Regions from separate parts of the Homo sapiens genome. Here regions 1 and 2 are each linked to region 3. The links come from fine-mapping of genetic effects on gene expression. A gene starts in region 3. Each other region holds a variant in brackets. All regions are shown on one strand. Distances are between the middles of the regions.

What was found. PIP is the estimated chance that this variant, and not a neighbour inherited with it, causes the effect.
Region 1: its variant is the best candidate, but not a certain one, in a credible set for the expression of STK32B in blood mononuclear cells (TOPMed, PIP 0.80).
Region 2: its variant is the best candidate, but not a certain one, in a credible set for the expression of STK32B in skeletal muscle (GTEx, PIP 0.54).

The regions. Positions count from the first base shown.
Region 1 is chr4:5,028,548-5,033,773 of GRCh38, reverse strand. It overlaps a transcript of STK32B not described here. Among named protein-coding and RNA genes, the nearest start is that of CYTL1, 12 kb to the right of the region's middle. RefSeq lists an enhancer at 110-159. The variant C/G (reference allele first, on the strand shown) is at 2,316.
Region 2 is chr4:5,207,777-5,213,002 of GRCh38, reverse strand. The region is part of intron 3 of STK32B (serine/threonine kinase 32B); the gene reads right to left. Among named protein-coding and RNA genes, the nearest start is that of STK32B, 160 kb to the right of the region's middle. The variant C/A (reference allele first, on the strand shown) is at 1,993.
Region 3 is chr4:5,049,132-5,054,357 of GRCh38, reverse strand. It overlaps STK32B (serine/threonine kinase 32B), which reads right to left and starts at 2,878. Exons shown (of 12, transcript NM_018401.3): 1 at 2,443-2,878. The coding sequence starts at 2,494. RefSeq lists an enhancer at 1,638-2,176.

The DNA of each region.
Region 1 (5,226 bases), 21 kb after region 3:
CTCAGCGTTTCAAGTATAATCTGGAGGTTTTCTTCTCATCTCCCAGGGCGGTTGTAAACAGAGAGTGCACTGGAAGTAGCAGCTGCAGTGCTCAGGGGTGCTTCCGCCCTTCTTGCCATCCTTATTCTTTGCCACATGCAAGCCCCACTCTCAGAAACCATGGCCTCCTCGTGAAGGAGAAAAAGGAACCATTCAAATTCAAAACAAAACAAAAAATTGCTCACACTTAACACTGCTTGCCGTGCCAGCAACGAGAAGAGGCTGAGCCAGTTTCCGAATTGCTTTCTGTCCAAGGTCTAAGTTGTTCTCACCCACTTCCTGCCCTGGGGTGTGTGTTGGCTACGGGGCTTCCTGAAAGGACACAGGCCAAAACACTCAAAATGCTTCCCAAGGGAGGAAGCCTTACCTTCCCAGAAGCTGGAGTCCACAGGAACCTGGAGGGAGAAGCAGGGTTTCCACGGGCCATGGCCCAGCTGGGGAAATGCTTGTTTATGGTGACCGTGCTGCAGCTGTGGACGCCGTATCACCTACCGTGTTGTAAGTGGAAAGGCAATCAAGGGCATCATTCATTCCCTCATTCCGCCAGCGTTCTCTTCCTTCCATGAGGCCGCTGACCCTGGGGCCCTTATAGGCTAGTGTGTGGGGTGTTTGGTGGTTGGGGACTGTGTTTGTGGGGCTGGAAGTTACATAAATAATAATAGCAAATCTCCAGTACTTACCTTACACCAGCAGTAGCCTCGGGCCTTTGGAAATATTGACCATTTAATCCTCTCTCAGCCCCATGTGAGAGGTAAAAGTGTGGCCTCCATTTTATAGATGAAGAAATGAGATAAAGTCACACAGCTGGGAAGGGAAAGAGCCGGTCTGTGAGCTCAGAGAGTTCAACTGTCTGGTTTGAGTTTAAACCTTTAAATCAAACTGGGCCTCTAAAGGACAGAAAATAGAAGGGTGCTTGCCAGGGTCTGGAGGGAGCGAGGAGTGGGGAGTTAGTGGTTAATGGGGACAGAGTTTCAGCTTGGGAAGATGAGAAAGTTCTAGAGGTAGATGGTGGTGATGGTTGTACAACAATGTGAATGTATTTAACACCAAATTGTAAAAATTGTCAAAATGATAAATTTTATATTATGCATATTTTACTACAATAAAATTTTTTTTCATAGGTATGGGGGAAAATAATATAGCTCTAGAAACTGGTCATCTTTCATTATAACAGAAATCATGAAAGATGGAAAATGCAGTTTAGGGGTTTTTTTCTTTTCTTTCTCTTTCTTCTTTTTTTTTTTTTTTTTTTTTTTTTGAGATGGAGTCTTGCTTTGCCGTCCAGGCTGGAGTGCAATGGCACAATCTCGGCTAACTGCCTGCAACCTCCGCCTCCCGGGTTGAAGCAATTCTCCCACCTCAGCCTCCTGAGTAGCTGGGACTACAGTTGTGCACCACCACGCCCGGCTAATTTTTGTATTTTAGTAGAGACGGGGTTTCACCACGTTGTCCAGACTGCTCTCGAACTCCTGACCTCAAGTGATCCGCCCGTCTTGGCCTTCCAAAGTGCTGGGATTACAGGTGTGAGCCACTGTGCCCGGCCAGGTTTTTTTTTTTTTTTCTTTCTAGGAGCTCAGGAGTCATAACTGGCTACTAGTCTCAAGTTCTAATTTCAAAGGACCTATATATCGTTGTATATGCAACTGATACAAAAAACGTATTTGTTTAGCTAAGTCAATTCTGTTAATTTGTTTTAAAAAGTCTGCTTGGTGAATCATTCAGCATTCTATTAGCAAAACAAAGGGTAAAAAACATACAGTCTGTAATGCAAGGTGGTATCTGTTTCCCAGTTGGGGAATTTTCTAAGTGCTCTATAGACACAGATCTGGTGAGAGCGACCAGCCTTGAGTGAGCAGCCACTCTGTCTGAAACTGGGCCTCCACTTAAATCCTCACACCCACAACTGGGTGAGGGATCTGAGGAGGGGACTGAGGCCGTGGTGTCAAGCACCTTCTTGATATCACAGGCCTGCTAAGTGGGACCCCGACCTGCCCATGAACCCACATTTGGGCCTCTGTAACGTGCAGCTTCTTACATCCCTGTGCAAAGAGGACTTGGCATTCTCATGATTGGCCCCTTAAAAGCAATGAATCACCAAATTTATAATGGAGAACAGACTCCAAACATATTTATCTTTTTTTTTTTGGAGACAGAGTCTCCTAGACTGGAGTGCAGTGATGTGATCACTGCTCACTCCAGCCTCGACCTCTTGGAGTCAGGTGATCCTCCCGCCTCAGCCTCCCCAGTAGCTAGGACCACAGGCACATGCCACCATA[C/G]CCAGCTAAGTTTTGTTTTTTTATACCAGAGATGATGTCTTACTATGTTGCCCAGACTGGCCTCAAACCCTCTAAATAAAGTCATCCCTCATTTTCCAAGGAAAGTAAAGTTCAAAGATAAGTGAGGCACTTGCCCAGAGTCCGACAGTGTGATGGTTAATTTCATGTGTCAGCTTGACTGGGTCACAGTCTGTACTCAGGTATTTCGTCAAGCATTATTCCAGATGTTTCTGTGAAGGGGTTTTTAACATGAGATGAACATTTAAATCAGTACATTTTAAATAAAGCAGATGACACTCCATAATGTGGGTGGGCCTCGTCCAATCAGTTGAAGGCTCAGAAAAAGTCTGAGACCCACCAAGAGCAAGAAAATTCAGCCTCTGGATAACCTTTGGACTAGAGCTTCAACATCACCTCTCCCCTGGGTCTCCAGCCTGTCAGTCTGCCTTGCAAAATTTGGATTTGCTGAGCTTCCACAATTATTTAAAATCAATTATTTAATTGACTCAATTACTTAAAATCAGCCTTCTCTCTCTCTCTCCATGTATATGTATAGATGTGTGTGTGTGTGCATGTGTCTATACATACACACATTCTTTTTCTTAGGAGAACCTAATACACACAGCTTGTTAGCATTCATGTAAATTACTTTTTTTCCTTCTTGCCTTCAGTGAATATGTATTGAGTCCCTCGTCTTAAGTGGCAGGAAGATGTGGTGGCTGGGAACACAGATTGAACCTAGCTGTCTAGGTTTGAACCTGGGCTCCACTATTAATTAATGGTATGACCTTGAGCAAGTTACTTAACTTCCCACCCTCTGGTTCCTCTTCTGTGAATTGAGGCTGTGATAATACCAACTCCTACCTTGTAAGGTTTTTATGAGGATTGCTTTGGTTAAAGTGCCTAGTGCCCCAAGCACCAGACACCCGGCTCACACTGTATCCACATTAGCTATTGTTCGTTTCCAGGCACCCAGACTATCATGCCAGGATATGACAGCATGGCAGAAAAGTTTCATCAACTTCACAATGTTACCAGGTGCTACTCACATCTTCTAAAAGTATTCCATTCAGTATCCATGCTAGGTCTGGGGGATCCGGAGATGACCAGCTCAGCTCCTGCTATCAGGAAATCCCAAATCTGATAAAGAAATTGACACATCCTTAGAAGGCAGCATGGGTAATATGGCACATGTGTTACTAGCTTGAAAAATCATCAACCTCAGTGAATAACCTCGAATAATAGTGCATTAGTCCATGTATTGGTTTTCTAATGAGTTGCTGTGTGTATTAGTCCATTTTCACACTGCTATAAAGAACTGCTCAAGACTGGGTAATTTATAAAGGAAAGAGGTTTCACTGACTCACAGTTCAGCATGGCTGGGAAGACCTCAGGAAACTTAACCATCATGGTGGAAGGTGAAGAGGAAGCAAGGCACTTTCTTCACAAGGACACAGAAAAGAGAGTGCTGAGCAAAGCGGGAAGAGCCCCTTATAAAACCATCAGATCTCATGAAAACTCATTCACTATCATGAGAATAGCATGGGGAAACCACTCCCATAATTCAATTACCTCCACCTGGTCTCTTCCTTGACACGTGGAGATTATGGGGATTACAATTCAAGATGAGATTTGGGCGGGAACACAAAATTTAACCATATTACTGTGTAACAAATGACCACCAACTTGAAGGCTTAAACAATACCATTTATCAGCTTGCAGCTCTGGAGATGGGCGCCTGGGTGGGAGTCTGCTGAGTTCCCTGCTCTGGCTCTCACAAGGCCAAAATCAAGGTGTCGGACAGCCTGGGTTCGTCTGCAGGAGCCGTCGGGGAGGACCGGCTTCCAGGCTGTATGGGTTGTTAACAGACCTTTCCTGGTTGTGTCAGATTGTTAACAGAGCCCCATTGCTTACAGCCCTAGGTCTCAGGTTCCCATTTCCTTGCTGGTGTCAATCAGGGGCCACTGTCTACTTCTGAGGGCCACCAGCATCCGTTCTCTTGTGTCTCCCTCCACTGTCAAGCCAGCAACACTGGGTTGAATGTTTTCCACACCTGAAATTTCTCTGACTCCCTCGTCTGCTCCCAGCCTGCAACACTTACTGTTTTAAAAGTGTTTGTGTGATTGCATTAGGATCACCTGGCTTATCTCTCTTTTGATCAAGTGACTTTTATTACAACTGCAAGATCCCTTTGCCATGTAACTAACCTAACCACAGGAGAGATCTCATCCTATTCATAGGCCTACCCCCAACTCAGTGGAGGGGGTTCTGCAAGGGTCATTGGGGATGATATGGTTAGGATCTGTGTCTCCACCCAAATCTCATGTTCAATTGTAATCCCTAGTGTTGGAGGTGGGGACTGGTGGAAGGTGATTGGATCATGGGGATGGTTTCTCCTGAATGGTTTAGCACCATCTCCCTTGATGTTGTCATCATGATAGTGAGTTCTCCTGAGACCCGGTTGTTTAAAAATGTGTGGCACCTCCTGCCTCTTGTTCCGGCCATGCGATGTGCTCCCCTTTGCCTTCCACCAGGTTGTAAGTTTCCTGAGGCTGAGCAGATGGCAGCATCATGCTTCCTGTATAGCTTACCGAACCATAAGCCAATTAAACCTCTTTTCTTTATAAATTACCTAGTCTCAGGTATTTCTTTATGGTAGTGTGAGAGTGAACTAATACAGGGGTCATTGTAGAATTCTGCCTGCCACAGTCAGGATGGGCTAGATTACACTGCTGTAACAAACAACTCCTAGTCCTTACCACAGATTGTCTGGGACATCACTCTGGGTCTTCTCCACCGCAGTTTGAGGCTGATAGAGCATCAACCACATGAATTGCTTTTCATAATCTCTGCCCAAAAGCAAAGCCCAAGCAAAACTTGGGTGGTCCCATGGCAGAGAGAAAGCAATAGC
Region 2 (5,226 bases), 160 kb before region 3:
TTATCTGAGTTTTAGAACATAGGATGCAGAGAATATATTCTGTAGAGACAGAACCAGAAAGCGCAGAGAGCAGACACTTGATTTTAAAAAAACGATGTCGACCTTCTGCCTGCGATCATTGATTTATCTCCGCCAGGGTCATAAAAAGCGTGTTTCCTCTCACTCATCGAGATCTCTTGCAGGCCAACTCATCACTCATGAAATTTTATACTTACAGCCAGCAGCCCCAACCTCGTGCAAATATGACACTTATGTCCAAATTGAATGCACATAAAATGTCATCCTACCCTCACCAACACAGCAACTTCCAATTATATAATGTTTTAAGGGACGATGACAAATGTGGGAGAAATTGCCTGGTGGCCTTTGCTAACATAACAAAATTGGAAAGTTTGGATGAAATCACAGGATGTGGAGGGCATTCTGACTTCACGAGGTGCCAGTTTGCTTTGATTAAGCAGCCATGGGGTGCTTCTGCAGGAAAACCTTTGTGGGGACTGCGGTTTATCTCCGGTTTTCGTACCCTTCACATGATCCACATAGTCACCTCAGTGCAGAAAGTCATGACTTACATTTTGAGAGCTCTTTAAAAGGCTGACAGTAAGCCCACAGACAGTAGGGAAAAATTGCTTGTTTTGAGAGGTGTCACATCTGAATATTACTTGCACAAATAACCTTGACTGCTCGGGTCTGAATCCTGGTTCTGACTTTTGGTAGCTGTGTCATGTTAGACATGTTTTTCTGCATGCTATGCCTCTGTTTCCCCACCTTCTAAATGTCTATAATAATCACATCTACTTGCTTACTAATTGTGAAAATTAAAAATGATGGCCTGTATAAAACATCAGAGCGGTCCCTGACACACAGTAAATGCTTAATAAAGATTAGTAAGTAAAAAGACCATTAAATAAAATCGCCTGTGTCCTGCTCTGTAATAGCACCTGGCACACAGTAGGAGCTAAACAATTATTTGCTGCACGAGTGTTGAATGAATTACCGTTAGTCCCTCGGCTTCAGTTTTCATTGGTGAGTCTTAACTCTCAACGTTGTCATGAAGATAAAATACTATGGCAAATACCCAATAAATAGCAGTTTATAAAATGAACTATAAAAGCCCCATTTACTGAAGTAAAAACAAAATCAGAGAGACTTGTCGCTTGATCATTTTAGAGCTTGCGTGATTCACAGTGTAAAATGCGAGTTTGTTTACTTTTCAAATGAACAAATGTGCATTTTACTCTGTGAAGCAAGATTGTTTGTTTGCTTGTTTGTGTTTGTTCTTTCTTCCCCAGAGAGGATGATGCTGACCTCATGGGGTCATTGCACATGGTGAGTTAACAGAAGAGAGAAGGCTGGCAGGGAGGAGATGGGCCACATTTCACAGCCTCTTATTCCGCAAGCAAATAAGCTTCCATCCCCCCTCCTCCCCTAGTCCTACCTCCCTGGACAGAGTCCCAGACTCACACACAAGTGCTTTCCCCCTGGTCCTCCTGGGGACCTCCAGTGGTTTGGCTCTTTCCTTGTAGAAGTAACTCTTCTGGTCATCCCATTGTTGACAAGACTACCTCTGGGGGCTCCTGATACTGCTATTTCTCCCCAAGTGGTAGCTGTACTGCCAGGAAGCTCAAGATCCCACTCTTTCCCTATTTCTCTCTCCCAGAATTACAAATCTTTTCCATTAGCCTTGGACCAGGAAGGCCTTGTCTTCTTAATTTCTTACAGCACACCTAGGGAAGAGTTCTGAGGAGTAATGTGTATTTGTGGAAAAGCATGCTAATAGACAAATAAGTTTGGTTTTTACTAGTTTAAAAAGTGAAAATGAAGTTCTTTACTGAAGGAATTCTCAGAGCTTTTGGTATGCCACTATTCACGGGACTCTTCAAGACAGGGGATATAAGAAGTATTTCTGGTAGGGCATGGTAGCTCACACCTGTAATCCCAGCACTTTAGGAGGCTAAAGTGGGAGGATCATTTGAGCTCAGGAGTTTGAGA[C/A]CAGCCTAGGCAACCTAGTTAGACCCCATCTCTACACAAATTTAAAAATTAGCTAGGCATGATGGTGCATACCTGTAGTCCCAGCTACTCATGGGGCTGAGGTGGGAGGATCACCTGAGCCCAGGAGGTCAAGGCTGCAGTGAGTTGTGATCACACCACTGCATTCCAGCCTGGGGCATAGAGGGAGACTTTGTCTCAAAAAAAAAAAAAAAAGTATTTCTAAAACTTAATTTACTTCACCAATATTTGGATAGAAAACACTTTTGCAACTATACTGTAAGTGTTCCAAGGAATAGATTTTAAAATAGATTAAATGCCCATTTATCTGTTTTTGAATGCCTGCCAATGCCTTCTCTAGGGCAGGGCTCATAACAGTGGACTTCACACCTGGTCCCTGCCTTCATGGAATTTGAAGTCTAGTAAGGGAATCACAGACATAAGCCCACAAGTAGAGTTCATAATGCACACCATAAGAGGACACAAAGTACAACAGTGCAGGTTTGTCTTCGGTGAGGGCAGGACAAGAAAAGTCTTCAAGGAAAATGAATTATCTGTGATACTGATGAAAGACTAGCTATGCTGTGAATGTGCAGAGATGGATGGACGAAAAGGGACAAAGAAGGGCAAGAAGACTGGGAACACCAGGCCCAGGCTGTTGTGCATGGCCCGAGGAGATGGGGAAGGGCAGAAGGTCAGGTGGGTAAGGTGTGAACAGTGGGTGAGAGACCTCATATGGAAAGCCTTGAGGAGGAGGAGGAGGAGAAGAAGAAGAAGAAAGAGGAGGAGGAGGAGAAAGACAAGGGGAAGAGGACATGTAGCACACACAGGCTGGAGATTCAGTCTTCAACATTATGCCTTTGTAACAAGATGCTAGTTTCAAGGAAATGGCTCCTGAATTGCATATGTGCTGAGCTGTGGGTGTGTGTTTGACATTTCAACTTTCCAATGGAAGAGCTTCAATGACGCACAATTTAAGCCTTCCAGGAATTGTGCTGTTACATCCAAATCAGGCAGTTGGCCTCTAGAAATTCACATATTTGACCTAAATCCCTGTGTCAGCAACAGGAAATCTATTGCCCTTGAAGATGCAGTGGTATAGAGGAAACAATCTAGGCTTTGGAAGTAGACAGTTGGGGGGCCATATCCTGATTCTGTTTTTTTTCGATGTTGCAGTTTTGGACAAGGTTGTTAAAGTATCCAACCTACTTTCTCAAATGTCAATGGTGGTATTATAAACGCTTCCTAGGCCCAGGCACTTTATGATAATTAGGTGAGATAATGTTCATGAGGGATCTAACACAGAGACCAGCACAGAGGTGCTTGGTGTAGATGGCAGCTGCTGGGATTCTAACATCATCATTATCAATTCAGTTCAGTTGAGGGGATAAAGCAATTTCATGGAGTTACTCTCTTGCACACTATTCTTCCTTTCACTGTCTTCAGAATTTTGACCACTGGTTGCCCCATTCAAGAAATCGTAAGCTCTAGGCTGGGCACAGTGGCTCTCACCTATAATCCCAGCACTCTGGGAGACCAGGGTAGGAAGATCACTTTAGCCTAAGTATTTGAGAACAGCTTGGGCAACATAGCAACACCCCATCTCTACAAAAAATACAAAAAAATTAGCCAGGCATGGTGGCACATGCCTGTGGTCCCAGCTACCTGAAAGACTGAGGTGGGAGGATTACTTGAACCTGTGATTTTGAGGCTGCAGTGAGCTGTGATTGTGACACTGCACTCCAGCACAGGTGACAGAGCAGGACCCTGTCTCAAAAGAAAGAAAAAAAAGAAATGTAAACTCTATTTCCTGACACATAAGTCTTCCGATATCTCTCCCTCTTCACCCACCCTACTGTTAATATGTTAGTCCATACTCACAATTTTCTGTTACCTGAATCTCTCCATGTGCAGAAGTGCTGAGGGGGAGGCAGCTGGGATGGAAGCTCCAGACAGAGCACACTGGACAAGGAAAAGGGGCCATGAGAGGGGCATGTGCCCAACTGGGCAGGACTTTGAAAATCAAAGAAAACTAGACTTCTTCCTGAAGGCAATAAGGAATCACTGATGAAGCCCACTGAGCAGGGAAAAGGTTTATAAAGAATGAAGTTTTATGAAGATTGCTTGTCAGGCATCGTGATCATTTATCTGACACAAGACAAAATAATCATATCTACCAGATGGGCTTGATTTGGGTGAATCAAGCCAGAATGGATTTACCCAAATTAATCTCTCATCTTTTCCCTTCCCACCATGGGGCGATCATTGAATTCTTCCCTACCCAGAATATCTAAGAGACCCCGAGACTACCGTGTTTATCAGTGGCATTGAGGATGACATGGGTGGAAATCCAAGGTTCAAGCAGGGAGATATGAGTCCTTGGGGTACCATACAGAGCTCATACTTTGAAGCCAGAATTTTGCCTTCAAGTCCTACCAGCTGAGTGATGTTAATAAAGTCATTTAGTTTTGCCAGGACTAAGTTTTCTGCCCTGAAATTGAAGTTAGAAAACTTCTCATGACTAATGTGAAGATCAAATGCCATAACAACTACAAAGTGTTGTATATGCAGTAAGAACTCAATAAATCATATATGAGACTTGGTTCTCCTCCAGAGCCCAGACCATGGTTTGTTCTTATTTACTTCCATAGCACCAGTGTTTGATGATCAATCATTCTACTCAGCAATATCCGGCGCTCCTTCCTTTCTAGGCAAGGGGTAGAAATTTATTTTCTGACTCCCTGTGGCTGGAGGAAGCCATGTAACTAACTGATGGGGAAAATAAATGGGTGTGAGCCACTTCTGGGCTGAGTTCCCTTTCCCTCAGGCCCTCACATGGTCAGGGCTCAAGAGGTACCATCAACCTACAATCCTGAATCACCTGGTGAGCAGAGCCTTCTCCCAGTCCAGGCTGGACACACTGTAGTATATCCAACAAGAAAGAGACCTCTGTTCTTTTAAGCCATTGAAAACTGGGGGTTGTTTTTTACTGCAGCATAGCTTAGCCCATCCTGACTGATAGATACAGCCATGCCTGTAACACAACATCAAACCAGAAAATGTTTCCTTTGTGAATAAATGTACAGAGAAGGAAATGTGGATGTTAAAAAGAGAGGAAAAGCAAAATAAAATAAAAGTAATAAACTGAAATGTCCAGAAGAGAAAAAACAAACATATGACACAGGTCATGCAACTTCATCTTGGAACTCTCAAAGCAGGCAGCAAAAAGTGATCACA
Region 3 (5,226 bases):
CTCCCCCCACTCTGAGTTAGGGACCCTCCTCCAGGATATCAGTCGCCTGAGCTCACCCACGTCAGGGCACTTACACACCCTGTGTTTTCCAGGTGGTTTACTTGCTCTGGGAGCAAATTGTTAACACTTTGCCTTCATCCTCCTCATATTCCCGGTCCCCAGCACAGGGGTGGGTACAGAAAATACAAATAGTAAATGCCTACGAAATAAATGAGTCGGTTGGTGGCAAGTAACACTGTTTTACCTGTACTAGGAAACGTGTGAGAGACATACTGGCAAAATCAAACAAGTTAATGTTTCACTGGGCTGGGCAATGGCAAAATGAGGAGAGCCCTAACCTTATATTTATTTATATTTATTTATTTATTTATTTATTTTGAGATGGAGCTTCACTCTTGGTGCCCAGGCTCGAATGCAATGGTGCGATCTCAGCTCACTGCAACCTCCGCCTCCCGGGTTCAAGCGATTCTCCTGCCTCAGCCTCCTGAGTAGCTGGGATTACAGGTTCCCGCCAACATGCCCGGCTAATTTTTGTATTTTTAGTAGAGTCGGGGTTTCATCATGTTGGCCAGGCAGGCCTCTCCTGACCTCAGGTGATCCGTCCACCTCGGCCTCCCAAAGTACTGGGATTACAGGCATGAGCCACCGCGCCCGGCCTCATAACCTTGTATTTTAACAAGCACCGAAACAGGCAGTTAACCTTAGGCCCAATCTGCTTATAGAATAAGGAACAGGAACAGGAAAATCAAAAGGTTGGCTACACCAGAGATAACTATTTTGCCAATGAATATTTTCAAGCTGGGGATAAATGACAGAGACGGTTTTCAATATAAGGGTGGCAAATTTCCTCTGTAAATAAAAGAGAAAGATGCTAGGAAAATTAGCAAAAGCATGACCTTTGACCCAGGCTAGAACCACAAGCCCGTGCAATTGAGGGTGATGCTGCATAGTGTTCAAACTCTTACTGGGACATGCAAGAGCCTCCATTACCTCTGTGCCCACCTCTCCTCTGTCCACAACTGGCTCCTTACCTGCTCACCTGCACATGCTCCAGACTAAAGATCAGGAAAAGCTGGGGCCTCTCTGTGCCCCCAAGACCCTGCACTGGTTTCTCAATGCCCTTATCACCATGGACGGTCATTCAGGGCCATTAGACTAGGAACTCCTTTAAGGAAGGCTCTCGTGGGCCTGACACAGCAGGTGCTCACTTAACCTTGACTGTGTTCATCTATCTTTTTGAGAAGGGCTGTCCAGGCAGGCATCTGAGTAGCACTCACAGCCTTGGGAGTTCTAGAAGCCATCCATGATGTACGCACACAGCCAGTGCCCTGGGTAATGATGACAGGCACAGCTTTCAAAGCAGACTGTCCTGCCTCAAGCCCAGCTCTACTTCTTACCAGCAGTAACCAGGACAGACCCCTTTCTAAGGTAGCCACCTCAAGGGGCATGAAAAGGATGGAGTGAACACTATGTGCTAGCATGGCTGGAACATAGTAAGTGCTCAGTATGTCTCAGCTCTTACCTGGGGCACAGTGGAGACTGGCGAGTCAGCACAGTAGGAAACCAGCTTTGAGAGGCAGAGGGCTCTTAACATAAAAAACGGCACAGCTCGGTACTGCTTGCATTTATAAGGCACTTTTCACGTGGATTACTAGTGGTTAAGCTTCAAACAACCCTATAAAGTAGCTAGTGGTATCATAACTCACATTTCATTGATGAAGGGACTAATGTTTCAGAGAGGTGAAGTAAGTTTTCCAGGGACACGCTGCACTGGAAAGAGGGTTCTGCTAGTCCAAATAGGGAGCTCTATCGACCTGAACCGCAAGGATCCAGCCAGGAAGTTGAGATGCGGTTGGACAGCCTACACCACTTCTGCGCCAGGGGGAGGCTGCCCAGAACAGGACGCCCTCCTAGGAACCACAGAGTTTAGCAAAGAAAAGTTTCCCTCTGTCCTGGGTGATTGAGGAGAGCTGCATCCAACAGGCCCTTGCACGAGACCAAATGCGTCGTGGGCACGCGCACACACACACAGACACACGGTGCAACCCGCCCTTCCAGGCCACCTCCGTCAGCCTCAGGCTCTCAAGGAAACCTCGGTTTCCTGGGGAGCCCGAGCCTAGAACCATCCCGACTGGCCTCCGAAGTCAACTCCTCCCTTCCACACCCCCAAGTGCAGGTTTCGGGTTCAACTCTCTGAAGCCGCCTCCCCAGTCCCGCGCTAGGCACCGTCCCGACTACTAAACGGCACTGGGTACCTAGGAGTTGCCTCAGCAGAAGCGCCGCGCCTGGCACGGGTCGGGCACACACTGCATTCGCTGGGCGAAGTGGCCATGCCTGGGTCCCCGCGCCGGGCAGCATGCGGTGCCCCGCAGGGCTCGGCCGAGGGTGGTGGAGGAAGGGGATGCCCCGCGAAGCGGGAATTCGCACCTCTCGCTCTCTTACCTTCCTCATTCTCGTCAAACACGGGGGGCTTGTGGGAGTGGTTCCCGCCCATATTCCGCCGTTGCTGCCGCTGCTACATGCCCGGCCGCTGGGATGCCGGATGCGGGATGTGGGACGCGCGCAGAGATGCGGGATGCCGGGGGCGCGCCCAGTCCGGGTTGTAGCCGCGCGCGGAGCCCGAGGGGGCCGAGCACCGTGCAGGGGCGGGGACGGCGTCCCCCTTCTCCTGGACGCCCTTCCGACTGCGCTCGCAGGGACCCCGCTCTCGCCGCGCCTTCCGCCGTGCCCCGCCTCGGGCTGCGCTCGCAGCTCCTTACTCCAGTGCCCGCCCGGGAACCCGGGAGCTCCTCGCGCCGGGGCCAACGTGCGGCGCTCCTCGCCGGCTACAGCGGGCGGGAGACGCGAGGCGGCGCGGGAGCAGGGGAAGGAGGGGAAGGAGCGGGGGAGGAGGGGACGGACGAAGGCAGCACGCAGTGGGCGGCGGCAGGGCGGAAGGAGCTGAGAAAGGGATCGGCCCGGAAGAATCTGAATCCCTGCTCGGCCCTCCTCCCTCGGCCGGGAGCTCGGTCCCTGCAGGCAGTAAGCGGTTTGTCAGCACCCACTATGGCCAGGCCTCGGCTACGCGCTTTGTTAGCACCATCCCACATCCGCCTCCGACAACCCAGCAGTAAGAAAGCATCGTTCATATTTTAGAGCGCAGTAGACGGAGGTCTAGAGGTAGAGGGGCTCTTAGGTCTGTGGTTAGTCGGCCCCGGCTGCGAAGGGAGTCCCAGGACTCCCCGCTAGCCTGTATTTGCCCATTCATATTGGGATGGGCAGTGGAGTGTCTGCTGGCTCTCCAACCGACGCTGTTCCTCTTAAGGTTTTTCTCAGTGTTTAATGAATGAAAGTATCTGTTTACTTTCTGACCCCTTAAGATTAGATACTAATCTGACCCCTTCATTGTACATGGGGAAACTGAGGCCCCAGACAGCCATAGTTTGCCCCAAACCATTCTCCCTGGGAATGGCTGGGCATGAGTCTCGGGATTCCCCCAAAATTGGGCGGCATCGGCGTCCGATTTAGGGGCGAGGCTAGCATGAGGGTCCCTGGGCTCCTGCGGCGGGAGCCTGGATCGGGAGATACGCGCCACAGTTGCGGGTGCCTAAGTAAGGGGTGCGGCAGATGCGCCCCAAGACGTGTGGGGCGAGCGCGGGTTCCCAGGACGCTCCCTGAGGGACAGGCAGGTCCCCCTGCCTTGCAGTCCTGCGGGCCCAGCTCTCCGGGACTGCAGGGAATCTTTGGCTACATCCTGCCATCTGCTGGGCGCCTGGAACCACTGTCCGTGCTTTGATAGAAAGCAGGGGTTCTTTGTGACTCTCTCCATCCTATCTCGTCCCCCAGTCCCCGTCCCCTACCTGGTCTCTCTCTCCAGTTCTCTCCCCTTCTTTCTTTTTCTTGGGAGAAGGGTGAGGGAAGCCGGGGAGACTCATACAGAAACAAAACAAAACAAAACAAAACAAAAAATCTCTTAAAGGCAGTGGGAAAGAACTGAGAAGGTCTGAGGCAGGCCCACCCACCATGACCCAGAGCTGGCTCTACCATTTACTGGCAATGTGTCCCACTTTGGAGTTCTTATCTGCAAAGTGGGCTGATTGATATTAACTCCTTGGGTTGTCTGTGAGAATTATATCAGGTAATATTTATAAAAGCAGGCAACAGTGCCCGGCATATAATAAATGATGAATAAATATTTCTTGCCTTTCATTCCACCAACAAGCATACACTGAGTAGCCAGTGTGCAGCAGGCAATGCCCTGAACACAGAGCTGGCCCCTAGCTCAAGAAGCATAGGGCGGAATGTGGACAGGCATGGGCTCTGGGCTCATTCTACCCAGGTTTCATTCTGCTTTGCCCCTCATTAGCCAGTTAACTTGGATAAATTACTTAACCTGTTCTGGACTCAGTTTCTTCATCTGAGTCCAGAAGGTGCTAATAAGAGAACTTTCCCTTTCTAACATTGTTATGAGGAATATATTGATATTGTGCTAGGCCGGGCGTGGGGGCTCACACCTGTAATCCCAGCACTTTGGGAGGCTGAGGCGGGTGGATCACCTGAAGTCAAGAGTTTGAGACTAGCCTGGCCAATATGGAGAAACCCCATCTGTACTAAAAAAACAAAACTTAGCTGGGTGTGATTGCCAGGCCTCTGAGCCCAAGCTAAGCCATCATAACCCCTGTGACCTGCACATATACATCCAGATGGCCTGAAGCAACTGAAGAATCACAAAAGAAGTGAAAATGGCCTGTTCCTGCCTTAACTGATGACATTACCTTGTGAAATTCCTTCTCCTGGCTCAGAAGCTCCCGACTGAGCACCTTGTGACCCTCGCCCCTGCCTCCCAGAGAACCCCTTTGACTTTAATTTTCCATAACCTACCCAAATCCTATAAAACTGCCCCACCCATATCTCTCTTCGCTGACTCTCTTTTCGGACTCAGCCCGCCTGCACTGAGGTGATTAAAAAGCTTTATTGCTCACACAAAGCCTGTTTGGTGGTCTCTTCACACGGACACGCATGACAGAAATGTCACCCACCTGTAATCCCGGCTACTCGGGAGGCTGAGGTGGGAGAATCCCTTGAACCTGGGAGGCGGAGGTTGCAGTGAGCTGAGATTGTGCCACTGCACTCCAACCTGGGTGACAGAGTGAGACTCCGTCTCAAAAAAAAAAAAACAAAAGAAAAGAAGGCATTGGCCAGAGAGGGTGCTGGCGCTGAGACTGGAAGGGCAAGGAATCAACCGGG